Regions from separate parts of the Homo sapiens genome. Here regions 2, 3, 4, 5 and 6 are each reported to be linked to region 1. Evidence: microRNA targets listed by miRTarBase, many of them from high-throughput screens and not tested one by one. Region 1 holds a microRNA gene; each other region holds the end of a gene's coding sequence. Distances are from middle to middle.
What was found. The annotated mature microRNA hsa-miR-5680 reads GAGAAAUGCUGGACUAAUCUGC and lies in region 1 at 1,315-1,336, opposite strand. An mRNA with a match to its seed (bases 2 to 7 or 8) in the 3' UTR can be bound and repressed. Matches are read on the target gene's strand: a 7mer-m8 pairs with bases 2 to 8, a 7mer-A1 pairs with bases 2 to 7 and ends in A, and an 8mer does both.

Region 1 (5,075 bases):
ATGAAAATGTACATCCACACAAAAACTCGAACAGAAATGTTCATAGTAGCATTATCCACAATAGTAAAAAAGTGAAACAACCTAAATGTCTGTCAACTGATAAATGGATAATCAAAATGTGATAGAGCTATACAATGACATCGTTTGTTCATAAAGAGGAACAAAGTACTGATGCATGCTACAACATGAGACAGCCTTGATAACATTAAGCTGAGTGAAAGAAGCCAGTCACAAAGTCCTCAAATTGTATGATTCCATTTATATAAAATGTCCAGAATTGGCAAATCTACATAGAGAGAAAATAGATAAGTGGTCACTGGAAGTTGGGGGTTGGGGAAAGAAGGGAATGAGTGCTAATAGGTGTGGGATTTCTTTATGGGGTGATGAAAATCAGTTCTAAAATTGGCTATGGTAATAGTTTGTACAACTAACTGCATATGCAAAAAATATTAAATTGCATATTTTGAGTGAATAGTATGATGTGTGAATTATACCTCAGCAAAACTGTTTTTTTTTTAACAGTAGAGATCATTAAAGAAAAATCACATCAATAAAGAAAAGTAGATAAAGTGGACTTTAAAATCACCTCTCTCTCTGAGGAATCCCACCCCAAGCACCTTCCTAACTGCTTCCTATGCACAGAATCTGTCCAGACTACAGGTGACGAACCGATGACCAGGGGACCACTTGTGGCCTACAAATTCTTATTTTCTTGGCTTATAGAGAAATATTTAAAAAATATTTAAAATTTTTTAAAATATTTAAAAAATAAGTTACTAATATTTTTAAATTAGAAGAGTTCACATTAAACGTGAACTTCTGGCTTCTCTTGGGGGCAGGGGGAACCAAACCAAAATAAAATAAAATACCCCGACTTGATGGCCACACTGGACCCTCTTTTCCCACGTAGAAAAATGAGGCTGCCTTTTTCAGGGCCATTGTGCCCTTCTCAGTTTGTCCCTGTATAACCACTTAAGTTACTTCTTTGTCACCTGCTTTTATCCTTCAGGGACATTTGAGTTTGCAACACCTGTGCAGACCTTTTGCTGTATCAACGGGACGTTCCCTTAGGCCCTGCTTGATGATTGGCTAATCCTATGGTGGTTTCCAACCCTGGCCACACATCAGAGTCTCCTGGGGCCCATGTGAAAAAAATACCCATACAAAGCTGGACACCCCTGAACCCCGGATTTTTTTTTTTTTTAACAATTAGATTAGATTCTCTCGGGGTCGGGCCTAGTATTAAGAAAAAAGAAAAAACCAAAAACCAAAAAATCCAACTTTCCAATGCAAATTTTTGCTTGCATTGGATTAGCAGATTAGTCCAGCATTTCTCCTCCTGTGTGTCCAGGAAGGGAAATGCTGGGCTAACCTGCTAACCCAATGCAAGCAAAGGTTTTAGTATTTGATGATGGTTTAACAGCCTCCTAGATAATTTTTGTTTTACAATTGAAGGCAACCGGTAGAGCTAGGAAAGGGTGCTTTTGATTAGATGAAACTTTTACTTGGTGTTTAAATCAGAGTTGGCAGCTGTCTGGACCTCAATGTAACTGTCCTTTCTATAACCAGTCATGTTAAAAGATTTTGCAAACATTACAACGAGGAAGGCCAGGTCACGGTGCCTTTGCAGCCTTGTTATTTTTAAGCAGCAACTTTTTAAATTGATGAATTTGAGTTGCTCTTGAGACCTTCTGCGGGTTCTGGAAATGTCACCAGGGTTGACAAGCACAAGGAGTTAGTTACAGTGGCTTTTTGAGAGGCCATGAGTGGACGACACAGCAAGACAGGAAACAGGTGCTGGCAGCCAGCAGGTACTCGATAAATATTGGGTGAATGAATTGACAAGACATTTTGCTTCTCATTATCTCCACACGAGATGAAAAATTTGAGGGGAGGAAGGAGGGGCAGGAGAGGGGCCCCTTAGATGTCTTCCTCCGGATTTTTTGTTAAGCTTTTCCTAGACAGTTTACAGAAGGCTTTGGGTAGAGAAAGCACTAGTTAGACAAAAGCAGCCCCCCTCCCACCTTGTGGGCATGAAGAGTCCAGAGGACACCACCTGAGAAGCTTTTCAACTGCCTTCCAAGGCTCCCTTGAACTTCACTGCGGTAGAGCAGGGACCCCAGACCCCCCCTCAAATCGAAGCTTGGAAGGAGGTGCTCTAGGCTGAATCTGACCTCCCAGGACCCGAGGAGGCAAGCAGATGGCACCCCTTGGAAAGTAGCAGTGCAGGCTGGCTAGAGGCCTGGGCGGTGAGCTAGGACTATGGGGCACCGTGGGGACACGCCCGGAGGCTGCACCAGGGCAAGCGGGGGAGGGGGGGGGCGTCCACTGCACCTGCAAATCCCGCGCCTCATCTTGGCCCCCCTGCAACCCCGCGGTGAAGCCCACGCCGGAGAGGCTGCCTGCGGGGCTGCAGTGGAGAGGGGGTCTGCGGCCGCGAGGAGGGAGGCGGCGAGCCAGGCTGGGGAGGGGGGCGCGGCTGGCGACGGTGCTGTCCAGGGGGAGGCGGGCGGAGGGAAGGCGCTGCCGCTGCTGCCGCCGCCTCGCCCGAAGCGACACAGACGCTGGGAGCGGCCGAGGCGGTGAGTCGCAGCGCCTTCCCTCCGCTTCTCGGGAGCCAGAGCGGAGTCGGAGTTGCAGCCGGGGCGGGTGTGCCGGGGGCGGCTGCTGGGGGGGACCCGTGCGCTCGGTGCGCCGCGGGCGCAGGGGTGGGTTCGAGGAGCGCGCGGTTCTGGGAACCTGGTTCCAGCAGCTCCCTCCTGGGTGCAGTTCACCCTGTCAATTCCTCTGTCATTCCCCCAGTGCCTCTGAGGGAAAACAAAACAAAATTACAGACCTTGAGGGTGGGCGGCAGAAAAGGAGAGAGCAACTTTGCAGAGGGCCGCGCAGAGGCGCGTGGGGCCGGCGGGATGGGGCGCGCTGGGCAGAAGGGGGCGTTGGTGAGCCTGGCGGCCCGGGGACCTCTGGAGCATCCCGCCCCGGGGGCCGGGGCCGGGGCCGGGGGCCGGGGCACCCGCTGGATCCCGGGCCTGCGGAGTCTGCCCGGAAAGGCCACAGGAGGCGAGTGCGGGGCGTGGGCGTCTGGGGAGGGGGCCAAGGGAGAGGCCGAAAGGCGCTGGTTGAACACGGACGAGGAAGTGGTCTGCATTTTGGACTCAGGACCTGAAAGATTCGTGTCCCTTGCGCTCGAGGACTTGGGAAGGGTGTGCTGGGGAGATGTGTTTGAGTGTTTTTCAGTGCATACCGATTTATTTTTAGCTCCCAGAGAAGCAGGATGTGCAAAGTGGGTTGTATCAGCCCGGGAGGGGCAGGAGGTCTCCCTGTCCGCAGGAAATACACAAGTTTTTTTTTTTTTTTTCTAATGCTGCAGATGCTTGCTTTAACTTTTGTGCATGGAGAAAGAATGCCATTTGGCTCTGCAGAGCTCCTGCCAGGGTCAGTTTCTTCCTGCGGGTCTGTCGGAGGCCGCAGGCGAGGCGGCTGGTGTGCTGCTGTGCTTACACGCTAGCCCCGCAAGAAGGTCTATGTTCTGTTCCGTAGGGCAGCTACGGTGAAACACAGAAGTAGGCAGCCAAGGTCTCACTCTCTCAGAAGGAAACCACACAAGCTCGCTCAAAGTTTTCCTACTTCTGGCTGATTTGAAAATAACAGACCTAAGCCACTGTATTACCAAGAGCAGAGTTTGCTGTCAGGGGTTTCTCAGACCTAAGTGGAAATGCTTGTGAGGTTTTTCACTCCAATTGGGAGATCCCCGTGTTTTATGGCCAAAGGCCTTGATGCAGACTACAAAGGAGAGGGGGTGTGGTGTGATGGTGGGAGTGTGGGTACTTGCGGTAGCGGGGCAAGGACAGATCTGGGGAGGAGGCTCAAGAAACTGAAATTCACATGTTTACCTACCCAAGCCAGATCTCTGGAAATTGTCCTGGAGTCTCCCCTGTCTCAACCATTCAGTGTCCAGTCCTGTAGACCCTCTGTCTGTAACTGTATTAGGAGAGTTGCCAATATGGACATTAGGAGTGTGGGCTCTGCAGCCAGACAGCCGGGTTTGAGCTGTGGCTCATTCGTCAATAGCTCCTGGATCTTGGGGTCCTTACTTAACCTCTACTGTGTTTTCTGATGTGAGGCATGAGGTTGATAATAGATAACAAAGCTATCTCAGGGTTACTGTGAAGATAAAATGAGTTAATACCCAGAAAGCACTAAGCATCATGCCTTGTTGTAAGTGCTGCATAAATGTGAGCTCTTATTATTTTTGTTGTTGTTGCTATACGCCCTCTTCTCTCAGTTCCTGCTGTCACTGACTTAGTTCATATTCTCAGCACTTCTTGCCTGAATTGTTCCAATTGCTTTTGAGCTTGTTGTTCCCAATCAGGACCGTCTTACTCCAGTCCATTCTCCAAACTGTGGACACTCATTCCAAAAACAAAAATCTAAGCCAGTCATTCTGCTTAATTTCCTTTAGAGGTTTTCTGTGGTTTTCAGGATAGAATTCACACTCCAGGGACTTTCACGGTCCCACCCTTCTCTCTTCATTAACCTCATCTCCCAAGCCTCCCCCCACGTAGCCTCTGCTCAAGCCACTGAGTCGCAGCATCTATCATCTCCCCAACCTTCCTTGTCTGGTCAACTCCTATGCATTCTTGGCAGCTCAGCTGCTGCGACACTGCCTTCCAGCAGGCTGCATGGCACTCCCCCTCCCAGAGGTGCCATGCTACCCTGGATGTAGCCCTCGCATCATTCTGCACCATTATCTATGTATCTTTCTATGTACATTATCTATGTATCTATGTATCAAGGCACCTGCATGTGCCTTGAGAGATGGATTCTGATTGTAGGTACATGTTTGTTGAATGAATAAACAAACATCAGTCAAACAAAATCCAGTCCTTTTCACTAAAGCCAGAATCAAACACAGAGAATAATAGACAGAGAGGAGGACCAAACCAAGCTTTATATCTAACACTCTACGATAAAAAACCTTGGGAAATACTAAGGAATCAAGAGTTGGTCAAAAGAAATGTGGCATACTGTCTTGAAACTGATGGGATCCTTGCCCTCGAGGTGTGTCCTTTTAA
Region 2 (5,075 bases), not on the chromosome of region 1:
TAAAAATACCAGAAGAAAATACACCCAAAAGTTGTTATCGGCTGTCTTGATTGGTAGGTCATAGATAGGAAGATCACTTAACATGTTCACTCTTTTCTCTAATGAAAATGTATCATTTTAATAAAAAAGAAACAACACGCGAATTTCATAGGCAAACCAACGATGGCAGAATGGTAGGTGGGACTGTGGGGGGAGAAGTGTTTATTTCGGAGGTCTAGAGGTTCCCTTGGGGATGCCTTTAATCCTCTTGGTCCTGCTCTTTGTTTGTGAAAAGGGCATGGTGCTGCCCTTCCCTCTGTCTTGTTCTAGGTGGAGTTTCTAGTGTGTCTTGTTTGGACTGTTGGCCCATTTTTATGCTGTTCTTGGGTTGACATGCCAGTCTCTAACTCTCTCTCTCTCTCTCTCTCTCTCTCTCTTCTCTTTCTTCCCCTTCTTCATCCACCCGTTCCGATGTGTAGCTGACAAGGTCAATGACGACTTCTACACCAAGCGACGGCACCTGGCTGAGCTGGCTGCCAAGGGGAACTTACCTCTGCACCCCGTAAGAGTGGAGGACGAGCCCCGGGCCTTCAGCCCTGAGCACGGTCCTGCCAAGCAGAATGGACAGAAGTCCCGCACCAACAAGATGCCCCCACATCCCCTGGCCTACACCTCTACCACCAACTTTAAGGGCTGGGACCCCAACGAGCAGTCCCTCCGGCGGCAGGCTTACAGCAACAAGGGCAAGCTTGGCACGGCCGAGACAGGCTCCAGCGACCCCTTGGGAACTCGCCCCCAGCACTACCCACCCCCACAGCCATACTTCATCACCAACAGCAAAACAGAAGTGACTGTCTGAGCTTTCACCACAGGGAGCACCCTGGAGACCACACTCAACTGAGAGAGGCAAAAAACAACCCCGCCCACACCCTCCCCATCCTCCCCTAATACATGCGTCCACACACTCACTCTCAACAAGAACCAACTCTAAACCTACTGGGGACACAGAGTCGCGCTTTTCCTAGGTCATGCCTGTAACGTGTCGGCGGGCAGCTGAGAAAGACCGAAGCGTGGACATTCAGCAATACAGCAAAGGGGAAAATGAGGCACACTCTTTCCACTTCAGGCCCAAGATGGCCAACTCACATGCCCAAACCGTGGGGCTGAGTTTTCTTTTCCTCCTAACTTGAAACTGAAATCCATGGTGACAAAATATAAAAGTAGCACAATTTAGAGAAATTGTCCATTTGAGCACATACACTACTTGCCACGTGCTGTCTGTTTCTAGGTTCGAAAGCCAGGGTGGAAATGGGGGTAGAGAATGAGGGAGGACACAAGAGAAGAGTGTATTCTGGAAGAGGAGTTGTTCTGGGAGGAATTTGCCCACATTAGAAGCATTTTTCTAATTCCAAGAAGTGGTGACGTGGACGTAAAATTTTGACGAGCATGAAACAGTAACTGGACCCCAACCATTCTATTTATAGTACTTTTCATATCATCCATGTTGAAAGCAAAAAACAACACACCCTCAAACTCACAGAAAGTAAATAGACCCTGAACCCACCGACAATGATGGGAAGGAAAAAACAAAAAACAAAAAACATTTTAGAGAACTCCCATAAGGACCATGACCGTGGAAATGGGAGGGATGGGCTTTTACGGAGAGGGTCCGGAGAGTATCAAATAACTTTTTAAAAAGAGGATTAAAATGTAAGCCCACTACAAAACAGATAAAAACGGCAAATTAGGTGTTTTTTTTTTTTCAAAAATCTTGAAGACTTGTTGACATTAACAACAACAAATCCACAGTTGGAAAAGTCCACAGGAGATCAGATGAGGATCCAGAAGCCTCTGATTTCTGGGTTTTGCCTCCAAGACCTGAAACAGCCACAGAAACAAGTCCTCTATAAACTGTATGTCCCTGACATCCCTTTCCCTTCAGCGCGTTGCCGCCGCCGCTGCCAAACTTCAACTGCTTTGGACTGAAAATGTCATAAGCGTGGGTGGTGCCTTCAATGTGTTACTGTTGTTTAATGACAGTCTTGTTTCCCAAGTGCAACCTGTGTTCTTTTAGCCTTCCTTCCTCTTCTTTTTCTGCAGTAGTAGAAGATGTTTCCATCCTTCCTTTGTAGGTGAGCCCACCCCATAACACCCTCTGAGGGGCTGCTACAATGTCAGGGGTACCCAAGAACGAAGACCTCCCTACTCTCTACACTATCAAAATTAGTCCTTCCATTTTCTAGCCCTCTCAAACCTGTCAGATGTTTCTTGGTCCCGTAATTCCCATGGTCCCTCCAAATTACCTCCCCACATACTTCATGTGTTCATCTCCCATCCAGAATGTCCTGAGGTTGTTTTTCTGGTTGGTTCTCATAATCCATAGTCCTTGGGGTCCCAGCAAAGTCAGTTTTCCTACAAGTTGTGTTTGTTTTGTGGAAGCCCAAAGAAGTGGATTGAGAGAGAAGAGATTTTTATCTAAGGTGGAAGGTTTTTCAACTAGCCCCTAAAGGTCTTTGGTAGTTAATTAACATTCAACAGACCCACAGCAACTCTGGTGTCAGAAGCTATAAATGGTCTGGCCAAACAAGACTCAGAGTATTTTCTGAAATCCTGAGCTGCAAGGTTCTGCCTCACCTGTCTCTCCACTCTGACATCACGAAATCAGCAAAACCAGATATTTATTCTCCTCACTCCCAGCAGATACGAGGACACCAACAATGCAGTTGATCCCTCTGGGCCTGAGTCTCCCATCTGAAACATGGGGAATTGGGGTAGGTCAAGCTTTTTGAAACTGCAAAACCTCTACCTGTTTTTAAAAATGAGATCTTTTGACCAGGCACAGTGGCTCACACCTAAAATCCCAGCACTTTGGGAGGCTGAAGCAGGTGGATCATCTGAGGTCAGGAGTTTGAGATCAGCCTGGTCAACATGGTGAAACCCCGTCTCTACTAAAAATACAAACATTAGCTGGGCATGGTGGTGGGTGCCTGTAATCCCAACTACTCGAGAGGCTGAGGCAGGAGAATCGCTTAAACTTGGGAGGTTGCAGTGAGCTGAGACCACACCACTGCCCTCTAGCCTGGGTGACGGAGTGAGACTATCTCAAAAAAAAAAAAAAAAAGAAAAAAAAAGAGATCTTTCAAAGAACGCATAATAGGAGATCTCCATGTATAAAAAGGTACCATGCTGTACAAAGCTGGGGTCAGAGATTTAGTGCCCACCTTCTCAGCCTCCTTGGGAAGACCCCAGAGCTTCCCAGAGTCAAGTAAATACCACTGGGCATGGTCAGAGTTTCCTTGACGTTAATGAGCTATGTACCTGCAACACACTTTGGCATCTCTGTATATCACCTTCACAATATTTGTATCTAAATTGATTCATTTTAATGCATTTTGTTTTTAAAATGAAAACTTCCTGTCTTCATCACAAATTTAAAAAAAATCATCAGTTGCCATAAATAGAAAGCAAACATAAAAATAAGTACAAAGGAAACAAGCAGCGATGATTAAATTCCAGCTGGAGTCTGTTGTCTGTGAGTCTGAACTAAAGCCTGGGGTTCTTTCTTTCTCTCTCCATCTCTCTGTTTCTGTTTCTCTCTCTCTCTTAAAATGATATCATCAGGTATTAAATAATTGTTAAAAATACCAGCACCCAATGAAGACTTTCTCTTTGTACTAATAAGATGGACCAAAAAGTAAATGAAAGGGGAATCATTTCCTATGCAAGTCAGTGTTGAACAATGCTGTAGCTATGTACTGCCTATGATCATTGTGCATACACTAGGGGTGCATAGCCCACACTTCAGAAAACCCTGGGTTGACTTATCTGTGAGGCTCTTTCCAGCTCAAAGTTTCCATAATTCTTATCTCCCTTTTACCTCGTGGTTGCTCTTTGCCCCCAGTCCACTTCGTCCCACCCTTATCTCAACTCTGATTAAGAGTCTTTCTTGGCCTCTAAATCTGTAGTATTGTATTCCTTCTGCATGCTCCTTCTCCTCTGAATAAACTTCATCAATTGAACTGGGCTCCTTGGGGTCTGCAGTTGTAATTTTGGCAGCAAAGGTGCAGACTGGTCATTAAGATGTAGCCACAATGATGGCCCAAGAAGGACACGTACTTTCCAAGTAGTCCTGTCTAGGATGGAAAGCTCAGGAAGTGCTTCATAGTTTATTATCTTCCAGTTGGTTTTGGGAGATGAACTGAAGAGGGAAGTTTGGATAGGGAAGGTCTTTTTATTCTTTTTTTTTTAATGTATCCATGGAGTATTTATTATTATTATTATTATTATTATTATTATTATTATACTTTAAGTTTTAGGGTACATGTGCACAATGTGCAGGTTAGTTACATATGTATACACGTGTCATGCTGGTGTGCTGCACCCATTAACTCGTCATTTAGCATTAGCTATATCTCCTAATGCTATCCCTCCCCCCTCCCCCCACCCCACAACAGTCCCCAGAGTGTGATGTTCCCCTTCTTGTGTCCATGTGTTCTCATTGTTCAATTCCCATCTATGAGTGAGAACATGCAGTGTTTGGTTTTTTTGTCCTTGCGATAGTTTACTGAGAATGATGATTTCCAATTTCATCCATGTCCCTACAAAGGACATGAACTCATCATTTTTTATGGCTGCATAGTATTCCATGGTGTATATGTGCCACATTTTCTTAATCCAGTCTATCCTTGTTGGACTTTTGGGTTGGTTCCAAGTCTTTGCTATTGTGAATAGTGCCGCAATAAACATACGTGTGCATGTGTCTTTATAGCAGCATGATTTATAGTCCTTTGGGTATATACCCAGTAATGGGATGGCTGGGTCAAATGGTATTTCTAGTTCTAGATCCCTGAGGAATCGCCACACTGACTTCCACAATGGTTGAACTAGTTTACAGTCCCACCAGCAGTGTAAAAGTGTTCCTATTTCTCCACATCCTCTCCAGCACCTGTTGTTTCCTGACTTTTTAATGATTGCCATTCTAACTGGCGTGAGATGGTATCTCATTGTGGTTTTGATTTGCATTTCTCTGATGGCCAGTGATGATGAGCATTTTTTCATGTGTCTTTTGACTGCATAAATGTCTTTTGAGAAGTGTC
Region 3 (5,075 bases), 71 Mb from region 1:
GTACTGAGATTTGAATTAACAGATCTGTAGTTTGCTACATAAATTCATTTTCTACCTTTTTTATAGATTCAAAAGAGCAAGTGGAATCTCTAAGAATGGCTTCCAGCCACTGGAATGAAACCACTACCTCTGTTTATCAGTACCTTGGTTTTCAAGTTCAAAAAATTTACCCTTTCCATGACAACTGGAACACTGCCTGCTTTGTCATCCTGCTTTTATTTATATTTACAGTGGTATCTTTAGTGGTGCTGGCTTTCCTTTATGAAGTGCTTGACTGCTGCTGCTGTGTAAAAAACAAAACCGTGAAAGACTTGAAAAGTGAACCCAACCCTCTTAGAAGTATGATGGACAACATCAGAAAACGTGAAACTGAAGTGGTCTAACACTCTATAGAAGATGAACAAAATCTCTGAAAGCAGCTCAACCTCTTCTGAGAAAAAAAATATATTCTGAGGCCAACTGTTGCTACAAAACAAATTCTGACTGAATGGTTAAAACATTTCTAGTAGAAGGGGAAAAAAAAGTTAAACATGCACTGTTTGTGTGTATAGCCATTTCATTAAATATACAGTAAAACTTCATGAATGTGAATTTACTAATCTGTTTAATACTGACACTTCAAAAACTGGATAAAAGATTCCTAGAGTTCAATATTAAGCAGCAAAAGATAAGCTGGAAAAGACAAGCAAGGCTAATGATGCTAAAATGATTTTATAACTAACCAATTCATGTAGACAAAAAATAGTGTGTTGGTAACAAAAAGGCTATTTAAAACATGTTTCTAAGTCTGAAGTAAAATACTTCCACTTATATATATAAAGTTCCTATTTATTAAAAAGTAGTATTTTCTAATTTACTGAAAACAACTTATATAAATATATAATGACTTGAGTTTTATGTAGGATTAGTATGAAAAAGTCTCAAAATAATCAAAAATGCCACAAGTATATTTGCACAAAATTCTCACAAAACTGACTTACTGTTTAGTTAGAAATGCATGATATAGGAAAGGCCTAGTCTATTTTCAAACTAAAACTTACTACTACACCCCTTCATTTCCTGAGTTTGTTCTTTCATTTTACCTCTCTTATTTATACTCTCAAAGGCTAAGATAACCAAGGCAGAAAGACTGCCCCTCCCCCCATCCCCCCAAAAAAGGTCAAAAGATAGGGCCACTCAACACCTGTTGAAATATGGCAGTTTTATTTCTTGGAATTCCAAGGGCTATATAGATATTTTGTGACCCTAACACTATTTTGCTATCACCCATGAGCAAACAAAAGCATGCTCTTAACCACCACACTACCCCTAAGTCAGAAATGCCACTCCTGGAAATGTATCCTAAGCACTTAGTTCAAATGTACAAGCTCAAGGTACAAAGATTTTTTACAATGGCATTACTCAAAATAACAAAAAATTGAAAATAACTAAGACTTTAACTAAATGTGGCACATCAACTTAATGAATTATTAAAAAGCAACTGAAGGCCAGGCACAGTGGCTCATGCCTGTCATCCCAGCACTTTGGGAGGCCAAGGCGGATGGATCACAAGGTCAGGAGCTCAAGACGAGCCTGGCCAAGATGGTGAAACCCCGTCTATACTAAAAATACAAAAGTTAGCCGGGCATGGTGGTGGGCACCTATAATCCCAGCTACTCGGGAGGCTGAGGCAGGAGAACTGCTTGAACCCAGGAGGCAGAGGTTGCAGTGAGCCGAGATGATGCCAATGCACTCTAGCCTGGGTGACAGAGCAAGACTCCGTCTCAAAAAAAAAAAAAAAAAAAAAAAAAAGCAACCGAAAAGTCTGGCAAGATAGACAAGTATTTAAAAGTAAAAAATAAATTCACCATATAAAAGTTTTAATACAATTATTGATATTATAAATATACACATGAGTAAGGTTTGAAAACAAATATGGAGAATTAGAATAGCTGGTATATTAAGAGGGCTGTGGGGACAAAAAAAAGCACTAGGTATTATAAAAGACTTTTTTTAAATCTCTATTACTGATGGAATTTTTTGTGTGCAATAAATAACTGTGTGGTGAAGAGAGGAAATCTGTTCTTTTCAATTTAAAGAATATCGGCTGGGCGCGGTGGCTCACGCCTGCAATCCTAGCAGTTTGCAAGGCCGAGGCAGGTGGATCACCTGAGGTCAGGAGTTCGAGACCAGCCTGGTTGACATGGTGAAACCCCATCTCTACTAAAAATACAAAAAAATTAGCCAGACATGGGAATGGGGCCCCTGTAATCCCAGCTACTTGGGAGGCTGAGGCAGAATCACTTGAACCTGGGAGGCAGAGGTTGCAGTGAGCTGAGATCATGCCATCGCACTCCAGCCTGAACAACAAGAGTGAAACTCCGTCTCAAACAAACAAAAGAATCTTAACTGCCGGTCTGAAATAACTCTTCCACAAAGTATTTTTTATATTTATTCTCACATTAGAAACAAACACAAATAATATAACCAACTTTAAAAGGATTTGTGAAGCTTGGATATATAAAATACTTTGGAAACCAGGAACTGAGCACTGTTAAAACCATATACATTTTCACAAACGTTGGATTCTTGGCAATAGATGGTAAGTATACAAGTCCTTTAATAATCAGATTTTTTAATAGTGTACATTACCAACTTTCTCCCCCACCCTATCCTGTAATTATTTAGTCATCCAACAAATATTTACTGAGTGCTTACTACATGTCAGCAATTAGGCCAGATACTGAGGGCAGAGTGGCAAACAAGGAACCACGTCACTACAATGGAGCACATTGGAAGCTCTGTCAAAAAGAGTAGTGATATGGGAACTCAAAGGTTATACAGTGAATTCACACTGAAGAATGAGAATAATATGACTTTTAAGCTGAAACTTAAAAGAACAGGACAGAACCAAAAGAGGGTAGGAGGTAAGAAAGAATATTCCAGGAAGAAGAAATAATACGAATAAAAGCCAAGAGGCAAGAGAGAATAAAGCATGTTGGAGGAGCTACAAGTCAGTATCACTAGGACAGAGTACAAGGAGAACAGTATGATACCACACCTAAGAGATAATTAGAGGCCAGATGAGGCAGGCACGCAGGCTGCAGTAAAACATGGACTTTATCTGAAAAACAGTAACAATCAGCTTGAGCTGAAAGCAACATGATCTAATGAGAAAAATCACAGCTGTATGAAGAATGAACACTAAAGCAGCTAAACCAGGAGACCTGGTCAACAGCTAACCTAGCAATCCAATGACCGTGGCCTGAACTAGAGTGGCATGGTAGCCTTTAGTTGTTACACCCAATATTTCCAGCTCTCTTCATTAAGGAAAGCATTCACTTCAGAGCCCCCTATGGCTGGGAACATAACTTTGGCCAATGAGTGACTTGTGACTAACTCTGGCCAATGAGCTGTGAGAGGATGTGACATGTGTCACCTTCAGGCCACAGCACTTAACTGCTAGTGCAAGCTCTTCCAGAGTTAGTTTTCCTGCTAGCACAGAACTCACAAACATTTGAGCTTCCAGCTGCTCTGCCAGCCTGGGTCCTTGAGTGACTATAACTAGCTAAGACTTCTACCAATCCATGATAAACATGTAGTATGAAGGAGAAACAAGCTTCTGTTGTTTTAAGAAACTGAGATTTTTGGGATTGTTACCACAACACAGTTTATCCTACCCTGACTGTTAGGGAAAACCCTGGCCAACCAAAGAGAAGTAAAACCCTACAAGGGCTCTTCCTGCTGTCGAATGGGACCTGTTTGTGGGGAAGATGAAATTCGCTACCCAATACCTGTAGCCTAAACTACAAAATGCAAAGACATTCTTGAGCAGGTCAAAGGCTCAAGTGGCTTAAGCCTGAGAGTGGCTATGTTAATGTTTAAAACAGTTTTTACATTTTTGTTTATGATGAGTTAATTCTATGTACATTTCATTGGAACGACATATAAACCTAATATATATTATAAGAATGACAGGCCTACTTTGATTTTTAAAAAAGCTTTGCTTCCAAATCAGTTATAAAACAGCTTGTAGGATGTGTAAAAAATTAACATCAATAAAAATTATTATTGCTACAATTTGAAGTAGCTAAATAATTTCAGCTGTGAATTAAGTTCCACTGACATTGTTTAAAAGATAATAATGTAAGAGTAAACTAAACCCAAAGCAAGCAGAAGGAAGGAAATAATAAATACTGATGTGGAAATAAAAACAAACAAACAAACAAACAAAAACCAAAACAGAAAAGCCAATGAAACCAAAGGTTGGTTCTTTGAAAAAAATCAACAAAATTGATGAACCTTTAGCTAGACTCATCAAGAAAAAAGGGAGAAAAGACAAATTCCTAAAATCAGAAATGAAAGAGGACACTGGGTGAGGTGGCTCAGGCCTGTAATCCCAGCACTTTGGGAAGCTGAGGCAGGCAGATCACCTGAGGTCAGGAGCTCAAGACTAGCCTGACCAACATGGCAAAACCCTGTCTCTACTAAAAATACAAAAATTAGCTGAGCGTGGTGGCACACACCTGTAATCCCGGCTACTCTGGGGGGCCTGAGAGACAGAGCAAGACTCCGTCTCAAAAAAAATGAGAGGGGATATCACTACTGACTTTATAGATATCAAAAGGATTATAAGGGAGTACTTTGAAAAACCTCAGACAATGTAAATGATGAATGAATAAACTTCTAAAAAGCCACAAAGTACCAAAAGTAACTCAAAAAGAAATAGAAAATCTGAGTAAACTGAAAAGAAAAAATTCTTACAAAGAGCTTTCCACAAAGGAAAGCTGAAGCCCAAATGGCTTCACCAGTGAATTCTATCAAACATTTTAAAAAATAACAAAGTTTCACAAACTCTTTCAGAAAATAGGTGAAAAGGGAGCACTTCACAAATCGTTTAAGGAGGCCAGAATTACCCTGAGAGGCACCAGAGAAAAACGAAACTACATACACATCAAGTCCCTCAGGAATAGAGATGCAAAAATCCTGACCGAAATACCAGCAAATTGAGTACCACAACAAATAAAAATGATTATACACCATAACCAAGTAGGATTTATTTCAGGAATAAATGCAAGGTTGTTTGAACATCTAAA
Region 4 (5,075 bases), not on the chromosome of region 1:
TGAATTAATCAGGGATGGCTAGATTATCTGCCACTGTGACACAAAGAGATTTAGAAAATCTCAAATAATTCCTGTAAGTGCTTATACTGGGGCCTCATTTAATTAAAATATAGGGCAAACATTGGATAAACCAGGTAATTTAAAGTGGCTAATTTAATCATCAGCTGGTATGCTGTGCTCAGAATGTTGTTTATATGTATACAGTGTGGGTCTGAGTCAGTGATTATATCTTTAGATGAAAAATAAGAATATAGATTGGTTTTCGTTGGTTTAGGTTTGGGTTTGTTATCCTTGTTTTCCCTACTCCATTTCTTACATAAATGTTTTTTATTTAGCAAATGTGAGAAGTTAAGTACCATGAATTAGATACGATCCAGTGTATTACCGTGTATTTTTATATAGCTTTATAAAATTGGAAAAATAACCTTAGATTGCTATGTTGGCAATATGAACAAGAACATAGAGGAAATAGCCCTAATCTAAGTAGAGCTTAGGAAAGTTTTTAACAGGGGTGAGTGACACTGAAGCAAACTAGCCCTTGAAAGATGAGTAAGAATTCACCAAAGAAAAAAAATAATTGAGACAATTTTTTTTTAAGTAAAATATTTTTATAAAGCTTTTAATGCTACTTTCTGACCTACAGGTGATGAAGGGAGTATGCCAGCAGATATAGCCACATTACTAAAAACATCAATGGGCCTGTGAAATAAGAACTGTGAACTCTCAATTGATGAGGAAATATCAACTTGGTGCACTCAAGGACATTTACATTATGATGACCATGGGGTTTATGAACATTTATAACTTTTTATAATTTCCATATTACATTTCTCATAGTATGGACAACTTTTTGCCACTAACTGAATTCTCCAAATACTCACACGTGAAATTTCAAAAAAGAAGCCACAAATATGTAGTTCTGAAGATGTTGAATAATCATTTTACAAAGCAGTTTTCTGAATGGGGATTAGTTGGTGATTGTTTGTAACAAATATGCTAATGCTTTAGAAATGTCAGTATTTTTGTAATTATTTCTACCTCCAAATATATATATATTGTCTTTCACTGGATAATGTGTGTAGATTTTTACATGTGCCTTATTTGACAATGCTTATGTCTTGTTTTTGCTTGTCTCATTTGAAGTTCTTTTTTATTATGTTAAAGAATGCAGCTGTATAGATTATATAGCTTTCATTTTATTGCTATTTGAAGCAGATGTTCACCAATGTCAGCAAGAACTCAACCTGAATTTAAAGGTGGCATTCCATATACTAACATCCCCCAGGTCCTCTCAAGTACTTCTGCTGAAACAAATTTATTTGGCTAGGCACTAAGTTGTTTTCCAGTGAATAGTAACTAAAGAAGCCCCTACCTTGCTCCATGGATTAATTCCTTCTGTTCATTTTCCAACTGCACTAATTGTGCATATTACTCTGCCTAATCTTGTGCATGTTTTCATTGATTTCCCTCTCCCGGCTTTTGCTTCTCTTGAAACTGTTGCCCAGTCACTTCTGCTCCAATTCTCTTCCTCTCTAAATAGTAGTTTATTACTGCCACATCTCCATGCATCAGCAAAATGTTGGTGACATTTTTCTAGCCTGGCAGAACAGATTACTTAAAGCTATTTCATTTCAAAGCAGACTGAATGTGACTTCATCTAAAGGCAGCATTAGGTACTGCATGGAAATAGGTCATTAACTTGAAACTCTTATCAAAATATATTTTACCAGTTTCCAGAATTTCCAGTACAGGACCGCCTGAAGAGAGAGCCATTGTTCAATTCCAATTCAGTGTGAGTGACAAAGTGAAATTTAGAAGTGAAGTTGTCTATTTGATATTTAACTCTTTATTAAATCTTTCTTTAAATTTCTGCCTGTCAGTCTATATTGCTGTTTTTATTATACATCAGTTTCTTTGTATAACTTGTGAGTTCCATGTGTTTTGTTTTTATTATGTAAATATCATTATAAATAAACTTATTTATAAATCAAAGATTTGTTAATTTTTGGAAATCATGCTTTTCAAAGCATCCTAACTTGCTAAGATGCTAGGTAGTACGACCCTCTGGATTTGGAAGGCAAATAAAACTCTTACAGTGATTATTTAGATATTAAAGACTGAGAACTCACGGCTTAACCCCAGTCTTGATGGTATATTGAACAGACTGAATATATTTTACCATTACAGGGCTAAAAGGAGTCTTCATGTGTTAATACTACCTCCTTGTACATCACTATACCCAAATCAGTTATTCAAATTGTTAGGAATTTTACCTTTTAAAATCTCATAATGGATATCTCATGTTTTCTGTATTAATGTATTTTCAATGATAGGCTGTTTCTTTTTTTGTTGTTATTGTTGTTGTTGTTATATCCATACTTTTATCTCTAATGAAATGTAGTTGGGTTCTTCCTGTAATGCGCTATTATGTCTTGGGCTTAATAAAAATATTTGTGATCATAAGTTGTATTTTCACACCCTTTTTAATAGTTTCTAACCCTTCCTCCTCCTACCCTTAAAATCATATAATATTGGGCACAAATGAGATTATCTTATGTGCTTAATATTGCCTGTTTGCCAGTAAATTGGAACTTACTACTTAGGATGTATTCTCATTGGTTCCTTCATTGGACTGATGTCAGTAAATACTGTAACCCATTATCACTACAGAGCAAATGAAGCGAGAGTTGGAGTAATATCTTGACCAACTGAAGCATTTTTTAAATGCAAGCTACACAAAGAAGACATGCCTTATGCATTTTTATAACTGTTTGGGACCCCCATAGAGTTTTAACTTTATGCCAGTAGATACTTACTTTGAAACATTACTGTAGTTCCTAACAGTTGGCATTATCGTGTAGTGGAGAGACGGGGTATGAGGAGATTTGGTTTCCATTTGTGTGACCTTACGTGTGATACTTCACAGTCCATAAATTTAAGGAATTCGGATTGTTTTAACTCTTACCAAAAATGTATTTTTGAAATTATAAATTCAATATGCAGTTCACTTTCTGCTTGACTTCACTCTCGCTTAGCCACCCTCTCTTTGTATAGAAGCAAAGAGACATTTAATTTGCATACACAATGGGATAATGGAATGTATTGTCCTTCAGCGCAAAAAGATTACCTAAAGGTTATAATAATGCTAAATATTTCCTTATGAAACTTGCTGTGGTTATACTTTATACTTGTATTATGATTTGTATAAATAGGATTATCTTATTTTGAATTTTCATAATTTTGTATAAGCATTGGATTATCACTTTTACTTAGTTCTGTCTTCATTAAAGCTTGATGTGGGGGAAATTTAGCTATGCAGAAGAGTGAAGAAAAGCTAACTACTTTTATTATCTAGAACATTATTTGCATTTCTTTTGTTAAAGGTAATTTTTCTTCAGATTGCCTGGATTACATGTTGGAGGGTTTTGAATGAGATTCACATACAACCTATTATCATTTACTTATAGCAACTAATAACAAGAAAATTTGATCCAAAGAATCAAGGTACTTAGAAAATACACTGTTTTTATGTGTAATCCTTAATAATTTATATTTGTTATTGTTGTTGTTGTTGTTTTGAGACAGAGTCCCTCTGTCATGCAGGCTGGAGTGCAGTGGCGTGATCTCGGCTCACAGCAACCTGTGCCTCCCAGTTCAAGTGATTCTTGTCTCGGCCTCCTGAGTAGCTGGGATTACAGGTGCCCGCCACCACACCCGGCTTATTTTTGTATTTTTAGTAGAGATGGGGTTTCACCATGTTGGCCAAGTTGGTCTCGAACTCCTGACCTCAAGTGATTCACCCTCCTCGGCCTCCCAAAGGCTGGGATTACAGGCGTGAGCCACTGCGCCCGGCCTAAAGTATTAGGTAACTTTTTTTTCAATTTCATAAAACATTGAGAGGAAAGAAACACCTTAAATAAGATCATACCTATCTGGGCTTTTCTTTTCCTCTTCTTTCTTTCTCCCCAACATCCTCCTCTCTTTTTTGACTTCTTAATTGTGAATAAAGCTTCTGTAAATATATGTGGACAGGTTTTTATGTGGACATGTTTTCAGGTCCTTGAAATAAATATCAAGGAGCACAATTGCTAGATTGTATGATAAGCATATGTTTAGTTTTATAAGAAATTGTCACTGTCTTCCAAGGTAGCTGTACCATTTGTACTCTCATCAGCAACAAATGAGAGTTACCCGTGCTCCACATCCTCGTCAGCGTTTGGTGTTGTCTGCTGTTTTGGATTTTTTACCATTGTGACAGTCATATAGTGGTATCTTGTTTTAATTTGCAGTTCCCTAATGACATTTTGTTGGGCACCTCTTCATATGCTTATTGCTACCTGTATCTTTGTTGAGGTGTCTATTGAGGTCTTTTGCCCATCTTTTGATCAGCTTGTTTGTTGTCTTATTGTTGAGTTTTATGAGTTCTTTGTGTGTGTGTGTGTGTGTGTGTGTGTGTGTGTGTGTGTGCAACATGGCTGTTTATTCCACCTGGGTGCAGGTGGGCTGAGTCCGAAAAGAGAGTCAGTGAAGGGAGATACGGGTGGGGCCGTTTTATAGGATTTGGGAAGGTAATGGAAAATTACGGTCAAAGGGGGTTGTTCTCTGGTGGGCAGGGGTGGATCTCACAAAGTACATTCTCAAGGGTGGGGAGAATTACAAAGTCCCTTCTTAAGGGTGGGGGAGATTACAAAGTACATTGATCAGTTAGGGTGCGGCAGGAACAAATCACAATGGTGGAGTGTCATCAGTTAAGGCTGTTTTTACTTCTTTTGTGGATCTTCAGTTACTTTAGGCCATCTGGATGTATACGTGCAAGTCACAGGGGATGCGATGGCCTGGCCTGGGCTCAGAGGCCTGACATTCCTGCCTTCTTATATTAATAAGACAAAACAAAATAGTGTTGAAGTGTTGGGGTGGTGAAAATTTTTGGGGGGTGGTATGGAGAGAGAATGGGTGATGTTTCTCAGGGCTGCTTCAAGCGGGATTAGGGGTGGCGTGGGAACCTAGAGTGGGAGAGATTAAGCTGAAGGGAGATCTTGTGGTAAGGGGTGATATTGTGGGGATGTAAGAAGAAA
Region 5 (5,075 bases), not on the chromosome of region 1:
CAGCACTACTTTATCAGTCTTCTATATAACACCTCACTGAAGCATAAATGTCCATCAAACAGGGAAGAAACGCTCTCATTATATTGAATGATCAGAGAATGATCTTTGTAACCACTCAAGTATTTTAAGTGGCTGCAAATGACATGTTTGGTATCCCCTTGTCCACTCCTGATACCTGACCCAGATGAGAAGGACTCATTAGTGCAGTGGATAGAGCCTGGGGACATCTGGGAGATGGAGTCAGGGCCTAGATTTGAGTTCTGGCTCTGCCACTCACTTGGCTGAATAGCTGTGTGATTTGGAACAAGTGCCTTAACATTTCTGAATCTCGATTTCCTCATCGATAAAATGGGGGCTTAAAATAGAACCGCCATCACGGGGGTGCTTTGTAAACTGTGACTTGCTCCTGAAATGCAGGGATCATCATCCGCATTGCCTCACTTGTGACCTTGCTTGCTGGCTTTCTTTGTCCCTAGCGGATGACCACCAGGCTCTCATCTGGGACATCCAGCAAATGCCCCGAGCCATTGAGGACCCTATCCTGGCCTACACAGCTGAAGGAGAGATCAACAATGTGCAGTGGGCATCAACTCAGCCCGACTGGATCGCCATCTGCTACAACAACTGCCTGGAGATACTCAGAGTGTAGTGTTGGTGGCGCTGTGCCCACGAGGCAGGGGCTTTTGTATTTCCTGCCTCTGCCCCACCCCCAAAGTAAGAAGAAACATGTTTCCAGTGGCCAGTATGTCTTTCATTGCTTTGCACCCACTGTTACCAGAAGCTGCTCTAGGAGTTCCTGGCCAGTCACCCCATCGCCCTCTGTGGCAGACTCAGTGCTGTGTGGCGCCTCCTCAGCCCAGGGCTGAGTTTTAAGATTTTCTCTCCTTTCCTCTTCTCCTTTGGTTCCTCAATTAAAAAATGTGTGTATATTTGTTTGTCAGGCGTTGTGTTGAGGAGCAGTTCACGCACTGGCTGTGTCTATTCCTCTGCCCAGGTGTCTCTGTTTGCTGCCCAAGGCAGCAGTTCATGTCTCGTCCATGTCCATGTTCGTGTTAGCACTTACGTGGGAACAAATACCAATTTGTCTTTTCTCCTAGTATCAGTGTGTTTAACAAATTTTAACTTTGTATATTTGTTATCTATCAGGCTAATTTTTTTATGAAAAGAATTTTACTCTCCTGCTTCATTTCTTTGTCTTATAGTCCTCCCTCTTTGCACCTTCTTCTCTTCCCTCAGTGCCTGGAGCTGGTACTGGGCCCCTGGCCCCATGAGCAGTTTGCCTTCTTGAGTCACTGCCTGTGTAGTACATACCTGACCGGGAGTCCAAACCACCTTGGTGCTCTGAAGTCCACTGACTCATCACACCTTTCTTAGCCTGGCTCCTCTCAAGGGCATTCTGGGCTTGTAAACAGACATAGGAAGCCTCTGTTTACCCTGAAGCACCACTGTCCAGCCCATTGGTTCCCACTGGCAGCATGGTAGAGCTGAGAGAAACAGGCTCTCAGGGTACCTGACTTGAGGGGAATCGTTTCATGAAGCTGAACTTCAAGCATATTTCCAGTACATTCTTTCAGAGTCTGTTTTTCCATCCAAATATAAGCCCCAGGCCATTCCACTTAGTGTCTTTTCAATGATAGGCAAGAATGATATCTGAGTTGAACTTCGGTGCTTCTGTTGTTTGAGTTTACTGTGCCTGGTGGTATATTGGGCATTCTTTGGATTGAGTGTTCTGAGGTGAGAGAGTCTTCCCGAGGCATCCTGTCTGTGCTTCCAACCCTGAACAAGACCTTACATGAGAGATGGACTGATGGACTGCGGCAATCCTGGGCTGTCAAGTGGATAGATAGTTAAAAAGCATTATACTGTGGGTAATGAAAAGGGAGGAAAAAAAAAGAAGGAAAAGGAATTATAGACCCCCAGGGTCAGCCAGTTAAGAGCTCTACCCACACCTGTCAACCCCTCTCTCCCCCAGTTTAGGTTCTGAGCAGTATTGGACTTGTAGCCTGCAGTTGTCTTTTGACTTGCAGGCCGCAGGTGTCTTTCTGTTATGTGAATGAGTTCCATGGAGGGGCATATGTGTGATTCCACCGTTAGATGAGCCCTTGGGGCAGGCAGTTTGGGATGTGCTCTTGGGGGAAAGTTGGCTGTTTCCTTGCGCTCTGCTCCTACCCGAAGGTTTTTAAGTCCCTCTGAATTGCTCATCTGAGATTAGTAGAGTAGCAGGCCTGAAGGATGATGGTTTTGTCCTCTTTGGTTCTCACCTGCTTGAGAAGTAAAACAGTAACTTTGTTCTTCTGGGCCCTTAAGCTTTTTTGGTTAAGTCTTCCTTTTCAGAAGTAGATGTCATTATATGCCAAAAGTCTAGCTCTTTGCTTTACCATACAGGGACCTGTCCCAAAGAAAAAGGCTCTTTTTTTAGCCAGCATATTTCCCCTTCTACCCTTTTACTTTGTTGTTCTGATTTTAGGACTCTGGCTGGCCATGTGCTTGTGGTTGCCTCTCCTGCATTTGCCACTGGATTTGCACTGCATCGTTTGGAGATACAAAGCGAGCAGTTCTTGGTCAGAACCCTCCTCTGCTTTTCATTGTGTTTGATAATGGTTACTGGGTCCTTCTCTCAAGGGTAGCAAGGCCAAGCTGATGGCTGCTTGTTTAGGAGGCCATCAGTTCCTTCCTGTGGAGAAGGGTCTGAAATGGAAGTCAGTGGTAGAAGGGGCTGGTCTGCTGGGCAGGGCTTACATCCACTGAGTTCTAAGATTCCTTTCCTGATCTGCACCTACGCCTGGTCTGTATGGTGGAATTTGTCAGCTGGAACTCAGAAACAACAACTTGAAAAAAAAATAATAATTAGAACATATTTGCATAAGATAGCTATTTACTCTGGAAACCAACAACTTTTGAGATTTCCCTTGCCCTGTGGACGCCCAGCTCCTGTCATCCTTCCTTAGGTCCTGCAGTACAGTCTTCCCCTGAATGCCACCGGGGACCCAGGGGGACTCCACCCCCCTAAGCAAGCACACACATACTCACAGTTGATGAGTTGCTGGTCTTTGAGTCCCAGCTCTCTTACCCTCCCTTTACTCCACCAGCCCGACGACCCATGACTGAGGAGGGGATTTCTACAGTCTCAGGATTTAGAAAGTCTGTAAGCCATCCATGCTCCAGAAAGCACCGATCTGTTGTAGTTGCAAAAACAACTCTGTAATTTGTTGAGGTTCTCAAACTGACAGCCAGCGAGACTGGGTGGGAGGCCCTGGATCTGTTCTCCCTGACTGCGGGAGGAGCAGCCACTAGGACTTTAGCAGGAAGCCCACATGGAGGCTCCGCCAGGCTGTGGCCCAGCTGGTGATGGCCCTTTTGCTCCTGGCAGCCTGAGGCACAGCTGCCTGTATTGTCCTCATCTGTTCTGACTGAAGGATGGAGGTGCTGAATAAATTAGGCCTCAGGCCTCTACCACCAGAGAGCTGGAGAATGGGTCCACGTCATTCAAGGACCTGAATTTTTTATGCTCAGGAGCATTGGAATCCTCTTCTTCCAGGGAGGAATTAGCCTGCAAGGTTAGGACTTGAAGAGGGAAGGTATTTAATAACTGGGCGAGGATGGGTGTGGTGGCTCACACCTGTAATCCCAGCATTTTGGGAGGCTGAGGTGGCCAGATCCCAAGGTCAGAAGATCGAGACCATCCTGGCTAACATGGTGAAACCCCATCTCTACTAAAAATACAAAAAAAAATTAGCCGGGGGTGGTGGCGGGTACCTGTAGTCCTAGCTACTTGGGAGGCTGAGGCAGGAGAATGGCGTGAACCTGGGAGGTGGAGCTTGCAGTGAGCCAAGATCGTGCCACTGCACTCCAGCCTGGGCGACAGAGCAAGACTCCGTCTCAAAAAATAAAAAAAAAAAAAAAATAGGTGAAAATTCCTTATAAATCCAGGATTGGCTCTGAGAGAACTGGCTAAGATTCAGGAAGAAACAAAAAATTCAGAATCCTACAAGGTTTTGATGACAATTAGGGCCAAAATTTTAGGAGGAGATGTAGGATGCAGGAGAAAATTAAAGTGTTTTCTTTATATCAGAGGAGGAAATAGTAGAGGTCAGTGAAGGTCTGGGGTAGGGAAACATTCAGACTGTCCATTGCATGGCTGTGGAGTGAGACTGCCCTTAGCCTGGGTCAGCCTTCCTGGGCCATAAATTGGGCATCCGTGATGCTAGGTAACTGTGGGAACAAAATGACAGCTTAGAGCAGCCATGGGTGATGTTTGGTGGTAAAAAACCTACAGGCGTTTGGGGTCCCATGATTGTTCCAGACCATGACTCTTCCTGGTTGTGGGTTTGTTACAGAGCAGGAGAAGCAGAGGTTATGACAGTTATGCAGACTTTCCCCCTCCTTTTTCTCTTTTCTCTTCCCCTTGCTTTTCCACTGTTTCTTCCTGCTGCCACCTGGGCCTTGAATTCCTGGGCTGTGAAGACATGTAGCAGCTGCAGGGTTTACCACACGTGGGAGGGCAGCCCAGTACTGTCCCTCTGCCTTCCCCACTTTGAGAATATGGCAGCCCCTTTCATTCCTGGCTTGGGGTAGGGGAGACCATTGAAGTAGAAGCCTCAAAGCAGACTTTTCCCTTTACTGTGTGTACTCCAGGACGAAGAAGGAAGATCATGCTTGATACTTAGATTGGTTTTCCCAGGGAAGAGGGCGGAGCAGAGCAAAGTCACTGTGAACCCTGGGCCAGGCCCTGGCTGGGCCAGCTCCTGAGAGCGTCTCGTGTTGCAGACCCTTGCCCACTTCACCCACCTGCACCTTCTCCCCCTCTCACAGTGTCACTGCTGCTAATGGTCAAAGTCAAATGTGTGGCCACATGGGATGGGCCAGGTCCTCTCAGGCTACTTTCTGGATGTCATTTTTAAAATATGGAAACATGCAGGTGCCTTCCCAAAGAGGCTTGGACTGGTATATCCAACGAGAAACAAATAAGCTAAAGAAAGTTTAAACTCAAGAAGAAAGATGTTGACAGTCTATGTAACAGCTGGAAAGTTTATAGGCACCCACCTTTGGGACAACCCAGTGATTATGAACATGTG
Region 6 (5,075 bases), not on the chromosome of region 1:
CAATTATCTATAACAATGCCATATACTAGTAAGCAAAGCAAGCAACATTTTTTTTTAAATAACATCTTTAATTAAAGTTTTTGCAAAGTAGAATATTAAACTTAAAATAGGTCTTAGTACATCAAAATACTAAGTTCTCTAATTGTATTCCAAGATGGTCTTTAAAACATAATATCCCATATATCACAGAAGAGCAACCTTGATCTGCAATGAATTTTACAAACATAATAAATATATTTACGCCATTACACATAACAGTATGTACAACAGCAGTTGACAATAGTAGCTCAGAACAGCAAAAAGGATTAGCCCCGCCCCCCAAGTCATAGTCCTGATGTAGACTGGACTGATTAAGGAACCTTGACTGAAAGAGTAGTTACTAACTCAATGTGTAGTAACTTCCCTTAAAAGAGAAAAGTTTTTTTGTTCCTCAAAATAAACAAAAATGTTAGTTTGGTGTGTTCTTCATTAAACCATAGACAATGACAAAAGACAAGAGTAAGGCAGGCTTAAAAAGGGAACAATATAAACTTCGTAATAATTTTCATAGCATAATAGAGGACTAAAATGCAAAGCTATTTAACAAACTCATGAGGAAACAAGTAAAGCAACTATTTTTTAACTAAAGAATTCAAAATCTGCTATAGCTGATTCTGACAGGTAGGTGAGAGAAAGACATGAAATAAAATGAAAATGTACAAAGATGGATCAACAAACTATTACATTGCACAAAAGCTTAAAAAAAAGAAAGTTCAAGATGAAATAATCGGAAAAACAGGAATTTTCTCAAGTAGAAGAAAATGCTAAGTCATAAAGAGAACTCCCAAGAGGAAATTATGTCTGTTTTCCTATACAAGGGGTATTTACCCTCTGATAAGAATGGTGACATTATTGCTATGAGAATCAAAAATAGTATACTCTTAGAGGGAGACAACTCTTTTCATTCCTCCATAAAAGCCAGGAAAAAAAAAATCTGTGACTTTCATTATAGCAAAAGAAAATATTCATATAAAAGCTATATGTTATTTCCTAAAACCAGAATCTATTATGCTCATTAAGCACACATTTTAATTACTACACACTGCTCAAGTCTTGATGTAATCTTAGAACAAGAAAGTGGCTTTGCTTTTAAAAGAGGCAACAGTGTAAATGTGACATTATGATGGCATTTTAATTAACAGAAAGAAATGTGAACATTTAAAAAATAGAAAAGCCCAACATAAAGATCCCCCTCACATAACAGACATTTTACTCTAGAAATTAATTGCACATTAAAGAGTTGTTTTAGCCATATGTGGCACTCCACAGAAATTAAACATGCTCTCAGGCATTCAAATGGTCTGATTACCCAAATGGCCACCAAGCAAGAGTTTGTATACTGAAAGGCACACATTTCCATGTTTTATCTTGTAATTTTGTGTAAATTTTCCTTAGCACTGTTGATTAATGTTAATTTAAGTAAAAGGTGCCATCGCCATCTGTGCAAATCTAAACAAATCCTCTCCAGAAACCATTACTTATTTTCATAATACCAAGTCCGAACTATTTTCTGCCTTTAGATAAACATGCTACTTTCATTTTCAAATTCTGAAAGTGGAAATCCCTTGCCTTTTCAAAGGAATGACATTTTAATGGAACCTAATACGAAATGATTTGTTAAATACAATGTTAAAAGCATGATTAAGAATTCAAGTACAATAAAAGATAAGCAAGTGACATTCTTACAGCAAAAGCTACTATAATAAAACTAAAACATGCTATTTGATTAAAAAGGACACGATGCAAATAATATATAAGAGCACAATTTGGTATGCAATGTAGCTTGGACCAGCTTTCAGAATTTTCACAGGTAAAAGAAAAGCATTTGCCAAGTATACCATAATTCATATGCAATACGCAGGTGCAAATACAAATGGTTATTTCCTGCTTCAAAAATAACAAAATAACCACTCTGAAAGCAGTGGTTGTTAATATTTGAAAAATAAAGTTATAAAAACAGGCCAGTATACAACACTACTATGAATATGAATGTTTGTCTACATAGAGGGCCCAAGACAAGCTGAATATCATACAGTAATCCAAGTTTCAGTAGCATAAAAACTACTAGATAGCCAAAGGGTTTCACTTAAGCAACACTGCAGCACTGCTGAATTTTTATAGGTAGTTCAGGTCACTGACTTCCTTACTGAGTAAATACAAACCTACTAGCAACTATATTGAAGAACAGTTGAACAACAGCACTTCTGTGATGTTACTCCCTCCCATTTCCTCTTCTCTCAGTCTTAATAATATATATTTTAAAACCTCTGTGTGCTTTGAGAGTCACAGAATAAACAAACTTCCCCTCAAAAAACTAAATTAATATAGTCAAAATAAAAGCTGTATTACCAGTTATGGCATCTAAATAAAATCTAACTACTAGCATGCTAGACACCACCATTAACACCAAAGTTTAGAACATAAGTTAAAGAGATCAAGGTGGTAAGCTGGGTGGGAAGTAGAAAAAAAAAATTTTTGCCTTTTTTTAAAGTTAAAAGATTTGTGTTAAAAAAGAAACACTATATAATAGCTCACAGTTTTCTTCTCTGTAATGTACTTTAAAAAGTGTTCATGTGTTACTTCTGAAAACACAAAGGCAAAAGGAAGACAAAAACTGAAGATTAAAAAAATATATCAATATACAAGTAACCTAAACACATGTAAATTTTGTCAAGATAAACCATGGAAAGTTGAATTCGTTGTAAGAACACAATGGTGAAGACAAGCATTCCTGCAGTTCTCCCAGGCAGTGAATTCACACTGAACACAGCAGTGCCATATTGTTCTTCAGAGCCCCTTACAGAATACAGACCTATGCATTCTTAATATACATATTACATTTCTATTATTTTTAATATACAAGTCAAATTTCTATGCTTTCTTCCCAATGTGCAAACTGGAGCCAACGTCTTTATTTTCAATGGCCTGGAAGGGCCACCAAATGAAAGAGAGGTAACTTAGTGGCCCACCCACCTCTTCCCCCCAAATTTTCCCCTCAAATTACAAAGTTGATTTTAAAAACTTGTTGAATTAGAATAGATTTTTAAAATTCTTTACTAGTAAACACAAGAAACTTTTATAATTACTAAACTGTTTAATAAAAATCCAGGTCCTCACCACCTGCCCTATGCTAATCAATGCACAGACTGTTAACTGAATGTTTAGCTTAAAAACTAAACACATTTATAAGCACACACTTCAGCCCAACAGGAAAAGTCTACATATATTCATGTGTATACAATTTCAGCTAGATGGTATGCTTGCAAAATAAAACTATATTCCTGAGGAGCTAGTTTGGGGTTTCTTTTTAAGGTGTGGCACTAAAAGAAACAAATTAAGTTTTTCTGTAAGGAAATTAAAGTTGTGGTTTCAATTCCACTGAACTCAGACAAGACCCAAGTCTTTAATTACATTTAATAAGTATGAAAACCTAATTAAAATAAATATTCATTCCTGGGTCAAATTTTATCTCCAAACTATGATCACTGATAACTTTAAATCTTAAATAGATGTTTCATAAAGCTGGAAAGGAAGAGGTATATATCACTGAGGGAGAATAGCAAGTAAAAATATTTAAGACCTATTATGAGAGTTTTAAATTGTTTTCTTATACAAGTGAATTAAAATTCAACACAATTCTTACCCTTTTGTAAAAAGCTCACACGCAACTTTTACCAAATATAACCACATACAATAAGCAGTTTCAGTTCAATCTATCAAAAGGGAAGTTTCTTCAGTTCATTCCAACAAGTATCTTCTGATTGAACCCAAGTTGGAGGAAGGAATATAGACAAAGCTTTACATGCTAATTACCGGTGGCAGGTACCTGTATTTAAAATCAACAATTATGGTTTTCCTACACAAAACCCCAACCCTCCCACCCAAAAACCCTAGGTGCTACAGTTCCATGGCTTGCCAGTAAGTAGTGTCTATGTTGTCAAGGTCTATCTTTGTTCCAGTAGCTTTGCTTCTACTGCACTTTTCTGACATGCAGAAACGAAGTTTTGGTTGGCATATGCCCCAAGTTTCAAACTGTCCGCTTTACATTTTTTTTAAGTTTCTTTTATTTATAAAAGAAAAAAAGCAACTCTTCACCATTCTGCATCTCCAATGGCTTTGGAAAATATATAATCTCTTCCATTAAGATTCATAATGCCATCCTTGAGATGAAATTTCCATTTGTTTTTACTTCTGTGTATCTAAACAAAAACAACATTTTAAAAATTGAGAGATACAATCAGAAAACAGAGAAAACAAGTAACAAAAAACCCATACACACACACACGTACACACACACCCCCCCACAAAACAGTATTTACAGTATTGTATTTGCAAATTGGTTTGTTTTTGTAGAAGAAGGGTCTCCTATGTTGTGCAGGCTGGGCTCGAGCTCCTGGCCTCACGTGATCCTTCTATCTCAGCCTCCCAAAGTGTTGGGATTACAAGCGTGAGTCACAGCACCTGGCCTAAAAATTGGTTTCTTAATAAAGTTTAATTTCACCAAAAAGAACAACAACAACAAAAAAACCACACACAAAACTCACTAGGTGGGTCTAAAAACAAATTTATCTGTAATTAGTACTATTTTATAGCTTTTAGTACTTGTGTTCATTAAAGTAGTTAAAAAATATTTCTTTACAAAATGTCTTATCTCTCTACCAGGTTTGCATATATATTTTCAAGGTCTACCTCAAAAAGACTATCCTCCACAAAGCTTTCCCAAATCTTACCAGCTAAAACTATTCTTTTCCACTGTTAAATTCCCAATGGTATTTTCATTGACATTTCTTACATTATTTGTAAGTAATACAATTATGGACTCATTTCTTCTACCAAAATAAAACTCCTTATAGAGTTCTCAAGACCTAACTACCATGGAACCTTATACATAGCAGTATTTTAAAAATACATCTAAAGGATGCTAATCATCCAGTCACTTACACCAGATTTCAAAAACTATGTACATCCACAGTTAAACAAAAAGAGCTGAAGGGCAGGCTCTGGGCACTCCCATCTTTGCCTTCACTTATAGTCCG

Region 2: the mRNA of SHISA9 is a reported target of hsa-miR-5680. Seed matches in the 3' UTR shown: 7mer-A1 at 4,808-4,814 and 7mer-m8 at 4,999-5,005.
Region 3: the mRNA of SMIM18 is a reported target of hsa-miR-5680. Seed matches in the 3' UTR shown: 8mer at 498-505.
Region 4: the mRNA of SMARCAD1 is a reported target of hsa-miR-5680. Seed matches in the 3' UTR shown: 7mer-m8 at 826-832 and 7mer-A1 at 1,031-1,037.
Region 5: miRTarBase lists DCAF7 as a target of hsa-miR-5680. Seed matches in the 3' UTR shown: 7mer-m8 at 1,185-1,191 and 7mer-A1 at 3,116-3,122.
Region 6: miRTarBase lists GTF2A1 as a target of hsa-miR-5680. Seed matches in the 3' UTR shown: 7mer-A1 at 1,255-1,261 and 7mer-m8 at 1,184-1,190.

Annotation. Positions count from the first base shown.
Region 1 is chr8:102,121,744-102,126,818 of GRCh38, reverse strand. MIR5680 (microRNA 5680) reads right to left here and starts at 1,387; the gene lies at 1,304-1,387. It also overlaps a transcript of NCALD not described here. RefSeq lists silencers at 2,483-2,542, 2,913-3,102.
Region 2 is chr16:13,234,572-13,239,646 of GRCh38, forward strand. SHISA9 (shisa family member 9) reads left to right here. Exons shown (of 5, transcript NM_001145204.3): 5 at 459-5,075. The coding sequence ends at 838. Among named protein-coding and RNA genes, the nearest start is that of SHISA9, 340 kb to the left of the region's middle.
Region 3 is chr8:30,645,215-30,650,289 of GRCh38, forward strand. It overlaps SMIM18 (small integral membrane protein 18), which reads left to right. Exons shown (of 3, transcript NM_001206847.2): 3 at 67-850. The coding sequence starts at 96. The coding sequence ends at 383. All of the region lies in intron 2 of GTF2E2 (general transcription factor IIE subunit 2), which reads right to left. Among named protein-coding and RNA genes, the nearest start is that of SMIM18, 9.2 kb to the left of the region's middle.
Region 4 is chr4:94,288,830-94,293,904 of GRCh38, forward strand. SMARCAD1 (SNF2 related chromatin remodeling ATPase with DExD box 1) reads left to right here. Exons shown (of 24, transcript NM_020159.5): 24 at 644-2,463. The coding sequence ends at 705. Among named protein-coding and RNA genes, the nearest start is that of HPGDS, 51 kb to the right of the region's middle.
Region 5 is chr17:63,588,524-63,593,598 of GRCh38, forward strand. It overlaps DCAF7 (DDB1 and CUL4 associated factor 7), which reads left to right. Exons shown (of 7, transcript NM_005828.5): 7 at 477-5,075. The coding sequence ends at 649. Among named protein-coding and RNA genes, the nearest start is that of TACO1, 9.8 kb to the right of the region's middle.
Region 6 is chr14:81,176,093-81,181,167 of GRCh38, forward strand. GTF2A1 (general transcription factor IIA subunit 1) reads right to left here. Exons shown (of 9, transcript NM_015859.4): 9 at 1-4,238. The coding sequence ends at 4,131. Among named protein-coding and RNA genes, the nearest start is that of TSHR-AS1, 8.2 kb to the left of the region's middle.